Regions from separate parts of the Homo sapiens genome. Here region 2 is linked to region 1. Evidence: fine-mapped expression QTL. A gene starts in region 1. The other region holds a variant in brackets. All regions are shown on one strand. Distances are between the middles of the regions. Region 1 holds the start of WASHC3 (WASH complex subunit 3). Region 2 overlaps LINC02456 (long intergenic non-protein coding RNA 2456).

Region 1 (2,785 bases):
CTTAATCCTTACATCACAAGTCATTTGCAGAAAATATTTTCATTTCTATAATCATATTTGATGCCAAAGTTATGTTTCTAGGCTATCTCCTCTAGCCATCTTTTAGATCCAGAATGTAAAATAAATTTAAACAATGTGGTTTTGGGGTACGGGAACGAATGACAAATTGCAAAATAAAAACTGTTTTCAACTGTGAAATTTTAGAAGCCGGGCGCGGTGGCTCACGCCTGTAATCCCAGCACTTTGGGAGGCCGAGGCTAGTGGATCGCCCAAGGTCAGGAATTCGAGACCAGCTTGATCAACATGTTGGAACCCCGTTTCTACTAAATATAAAAAATTAGCCAGGCATGGTGGCGCATGCCTGTAATCCCAGCTACTCAGGAGGCTGAGGCAGGAGAATCGCTTGAACCCGGGAGGTGGAGGTTGCAGTGAGCCGAGATCGCGCCACTGCACTGTAGCTTGGGTGACAGAGTGAGACCCTGTCTCACAAAAAAAAAAAAAAAAAAAAAAAAAATTAGATTTCCTATTGTTCCCTTTAATCGCAATAAGCCTGACTGACCTATCTCACAGGGACCTCTAGAACACTAACTCAGTAGAGGAGGGGTGCAGGATTGATTTTAACAGAGTAAAAGAGAACCTAAGATGTGTTAACACAATTGGGTGATGAGAGGTCACGGTACATGAATAAAGACTGTAATTCTTGTTTTACTCCATTTGTCAGTCTCAGCAGTGAAAGGTGATTTCCAGGCGACTCTATAAACCAGTATCACCGGACCTACCTCCTCACAAACTGTAGAAAAGCGGTTGAGGAACTGTACAGTGTGCACCACAAATTGGTTTAGAAAAGCCACCGTTCTTTTCTGTTGAATAGCTGGCACCTGTGTTACGTAAAAACAAACATGGTTCATACAGGAGGAACGTACACAGTGCAAATCTTTTCATATTTGGACATAATCACGAGGCACTTTGCTGTGTGATATGAATTTCTTGAAGGACTGGGAATAGTCATTAACTTGTTTCCTAAGCTGTGGGTGGGGTGTCCGAAGATGACAGAGGTGCACAAAAGTTTGAGAACAGGCTCTAGACTCACTGGTACGAATTTTGGCAGGCAAAAAGCACCACACATAAACACACACAAAATCTTGGGGGCTGAATAAGAGGTAGGGCTAGCTATCGCAACCGGCGTGTGTCGCCGGCGGCAGAGAGACAAGCGAGATGGGAAGCGACAGTTGGGAGATGCACACCGTCTCCTTAATCAGCTCAGGAGGGACCCCATTTCAAGGTGGACTGTGGGGCTCTCCCTCCTGAGGCCCCACAGGCCTGTCACAAGGGCCCGAGGCCGTGACAGGGTGGGGACTCGGAAGGTGGGTGTCTCCCCGGAAAGCTGCGTCTTCCCCATCCTCCTCCCGGCTCGTCGGGAGTCTAGCACCGTCTTTTACAAACCTTGGTCAGGTCTATGCCTGACCCCATGAGAGGAAGCCCGTCCTCATCCATCTCCTCAGCGGGCGGTGGACCCCGAGTTCACCCACAAACCCCTCCCAGATGGGGCCCGCCCAACCCGGTAATCACGTCTCAACTTTCCCCCCAAGTGCCCGCCTCCGGGGCCCTTCCCGCCGGAAGAAAGCTTCTCCGCTCACTAATCACTCGGCGGCTTCCGGAGAGCCCGCCTCCTCGCTCGGCATTCTGGGATTGGTAGTTTTAGTCCAGATTGTGACGTCAATTTCGGGGTGGCGCGCGGTGGTGCAAGGATGCAGTTAGAGCACTGAAATCTTAGAAAGGAGGCAACAAAACAAAACAAAAAAACAAAGCCAGAAGTTGCGTCCTTTTGAGGTTATCCCTACTTAGTCCTGTCTGTTATATAATAACTCCGTCATTCCTTGAGCAACAATTTTTTTTTTGTTGTTGTTAATCCTAAGTGCCATATACTCTGCTAGGCTTTTACTGGGAAAACAAAGATTGAGTTTGATTGCTGCACGGGAGAGGTTTATGCCCTGAAGAATGAGAAATAAGACCTACTTCCAAAGCGTGTGTGTGTGTATACACACAAGTTCTCGCTATTTCCCCAGGCTGGTCTCGAACTCCTGGCCTCAAGCGATTCTCCTGCCTCAGCCTCACACGATTCTCCTGCCTCAGCCTCACAGAGTGCTGGGATTACAGGCGTGAGCCAACGCGCCTGGTCTTCCAAAGGTTTTTAAAACATGAAATAAAATGTCAACTACTAGATGTGAGGCACAAACCTACGGAAGTGACTGCCACTTACAGGGAGCATCAAAAAGATGAAGACCAAGACTGCAGTGGGCAGTTTTGTTTTAAAGATGGGGGGTCTCGCTTTGTTACCCAGTCTGGCGTGCAGTGAGGATCATAGCTCACCTTAGTCTCAAACCCTTTGGCTCAAATGATCCTCATGCCTTGGCCTCCCTAAGTGCTGGGATTATAGGTGTGAGCCACTGGCACCTGGCCTGTTGGTTTGGTTGAAGCAAATAATCCCATAAATGGAGAATGGTAGGAAATGAGGTAAGAGTGTTACTGGTGGAGGGTGTCCAGGTTCTTTTGAACAAAGAATTGGACAAAACGCACAAATCAAGGAGAGAATGAACCAACAAAAGCAAAGATTCATTGAAAACCAAAGTACGCTCCACAGTGTACTGGATACAGAATCTTCTTAGGTCCAAATACCCACTAGAGATTTCCCATTGGACACTGGTGTTCTCCTCATGCAAATGAAGTGGTGGCCCACAATCAGTCTGATTGGTTATGGAAAGCAACCAATCAGAGGCTGAAGTAA
Region 2 (2,785 bases), 250 kb after region 1:
TGGCCTTCTTTGTCTCTTTTGATCTTTGTTGGTTTAAAGTCTGTTTTATCAGAGACTAGGATTGCAACCCCTGCCTTTTTTTGTTTTCCATTTGCTTGGTAGATCTTCCTCCATCCTTTTATTTTGAGCCTATGTGTGTCTCTGCACGTGAGATGGGTTTCCTGAATATAGCACACTGATGGGTCTTGACTCTTTATCCAATTTGCCTGTCTGTGTCTTTTAATTGGAGCATTTAGTCCATTTACATTTAAAGTTAATATTGTTATGTGTGAATTTGATCCTGTCATTATGATGTTAGCTGGTTATTTTGCTCGTTAGTTGATGCAGTTTCTTCCTAGTCTCGATGGTCTTTACATTTTGGCATTATTTTGCAGCGGGTGGTACCAGTTGTTCCTTTCCATGTTTAGTGCTTCCTTCAGGAGCTCTTTTAGGGCAGGCCTGGTGGTGACAAAATCTCTCAGCATTTGCTTGTCTGTAAAGTATTTTATTTCTCCTTCGCTTATGAAGCTTATTTTGGCTGGATATGAAATTCTGGGTTGAAAATTCTTTTCTTTAAGAATGTTGAATATTGGCCCCCACTCTCTTCTGGCTTGTAGGGTTTCTGCCGAGATATCCACTGTTAGTCTGATGGGCTTCCCTTTGAGGGTAACCAGACCTTTCTCTCTGGCCGCCCTTAACATTTTTTCCTTCATTTCAACTTTGGTGAATCTGACAATTATGTGTCTTGGAGTTGCTCTTCTTGAGGAGTATCTTTGTGGCGTTCTCTGTATTTCCTGAATCTGAACGTTGGCCTGCCTTGCTAGATTGGGGAAGTTCTCTTGGATAATATCCTGCAGAGTGTTTTCCAACTTGGTTCCATTCTCCCCATCACTTTCAGGTACACCAATCAGACGTAGATTTGGTCTTTTCACATAGTCCCATATTTCTTGGAGGCTTTGCTCTTTTCTTTTCTTTTTTCTCTAAACTTCCCTTATTGCTTCATTTCATTCATTTCATCTTCCATTACTGATACCCTTTCTTCCAGTTGATTGCATCAGCTCCTGAGGCTTCTGCATTCTTCACGTAGTTCTCGAGCCTTGGTTTTCAGCTCCATCAGCTCCTTTAAGCACTTCTCTGTATTGGTTATTCTAGTTATACATTCTTCTAAATTTTTTTCAAAGTTTTCAACTTCTTTGCCTTTGGTTTGAATGTCCTCCCGTAGCTCAGAGTAATTTGATCGTCTGAAGACTTCTTCTCTCAGCTCGTCAAAGTCATTCTCCATCCAGCTTTGTTCTGTTGCTGGTGAGGAACTGCGTTTCTTTGGAGGAGGAGAGGCGCTCTGCTTTTTAGAGTTTCCAGTTTTTCTTTTCTGTTTTTTCCCCATCTTTGTGGTTTTATCTACTTTTGGTCTTTGATGATGGTGATGTACAGATGGATTTTTGGTGTGGATGTCCTTTCTGTTTGTTAGTTTTCCTTCTAACAGACAGGACCCTCAGCTGCAGGTCTGTTGGAATACCCTGCCCTGTGAGGTGTCAGTGTGCCCCTGCTGGGGGGTGCCTCCCAGTTAGGCTGCTTGGGGGTCAGGGGTCAGGGACCCACTTGAGGAGGCAGTCTGCCCGTTCTCAGATCTCCAGCTGCGTGCTGGGAGAACCACTGCTCTCTTCAAAGCTGTCAGACAGGGACATTTAAGTCTGCAGAGGTTACTGCTGTCTTTTTGTTTGTCTGTGCCCTGCCCCCAGAGGTGGAGCCTACAGAGGCAGGCAGGCCTCCTTGAGCTGTGGTGGGCTCCACCCAGTTGGAGCTTCCTAAGCAAGCCTGGGCAATGGCG[G/A]GCGCCCCTCCCCCAGCCTCGCTGCCGCCTTGCAGTTTGATCTCAGACTGCTGTGCTATCAATCAGTGAGACTCCGTGGGCGTAGGACCCTCCAAGCCAGGTGCCGGATATAATCTCGTGGTGCGCCGTTTTTTAAGCCCGTCGGAAAAGCGCAGTATTCGGGTGGAAGTGGCCCGATTTTCCAGGTGCGTCCGTCACCCCTTTCTTTGACTCGGAAAGGGAACTCCCTGACCCCTTGCGCTTCCCAAGTGAGGCAATGCGTCACCCTGCTTCGGCTCGCGCACGGTGCGTGCACCCACTGACCTGCGACCACTGTCTGGCACTCCCTAGTGAGATGAACCCTGTACCTCAGATGGAAATGCAGAAATCACCCGTCTTCTGCGTCGCTCATGCTGGGAGCTGTAGACTGGAGCTGTTCCTATTCGGCCATCTTGGCTCTTCCCCCGTTTTACAATTTAAAGGTGATTAGGCTTCCTAAATGCTTCATAAAATGCCACTATGACTCTTAACTGTACAGCTTGCCTACTCTACAGCTGGGTAAGGCCTGGGACACATGGAGTTAGACACTGGAAAGGCTCAGATCTTATCTGCATTTCTGTTTGGGTCGTAGGCTCCACACCTAGTACATAATTAAAATCCCTTACCAAGGTTTTCACCAAAAGTAAAAGATGCTAAGAGTTAACATTTTAATATGTAATTGAGACTACTGAAAAAATAAGTTTACATACAAGGTTTGTAAAGGGAATAAAATGTGTTTTTGTGAGAGATTATAAGAAAGTATGGGAATGTAAATTTTTGTCTAGGTTAGAGGGTTAAAGATTTATTTTGAATTAAAAAGCTAAAGGTTAGAACAAGTTGTGAATGGTTTATAAAAATTAATTACAAGAGATTCTATGTGTGAATGTATTGGCTAAAGTTAAAATGGCATTATTCATTTTTTTTCTATAAATTGGACATTGGAATAGAAGAACAACAGAG

Evidence for each region. PIP is the estimated chance that this variant, and not a neighbour inherited with it, causes the effect.
Region 2: its variant is the best candidate, but not a certain one, in a credible set for the expression of WASHC3 in whole blood (INTERVAL, PIP 0.78).

Annotation. Positions count from the first base shown.
Region 1 is chr12:102,060,469-102,063,253 of GRCh38, forward strand. WASHC3 (WASH complex subunit 3) reads right to left here and starts at 1,523. Exons shown (of 7, transcript NM_016053.4): 1 at 1,444-1,523; 2 at 780-878. The coding sequence starts at 1,494. RefSeq lists enhancers at 1,182-1,231, 1,242-1,441.
Region 2 is chr12:102,311,517-102,314,301 of GRCh38, forward strand. All of the region lies in intron 4 of LINC02456 (long intergenic non-protein coding RNA 2456), which reads left to right. Among named protein-coding and RNA genes, the nearest start is that of LINC02456, 33 kb to the left of the region's middle. RefSeq lists an enhancer at 1,386-1,921. The variant G/A (reference allele first, on the strand shown) is at 1,808.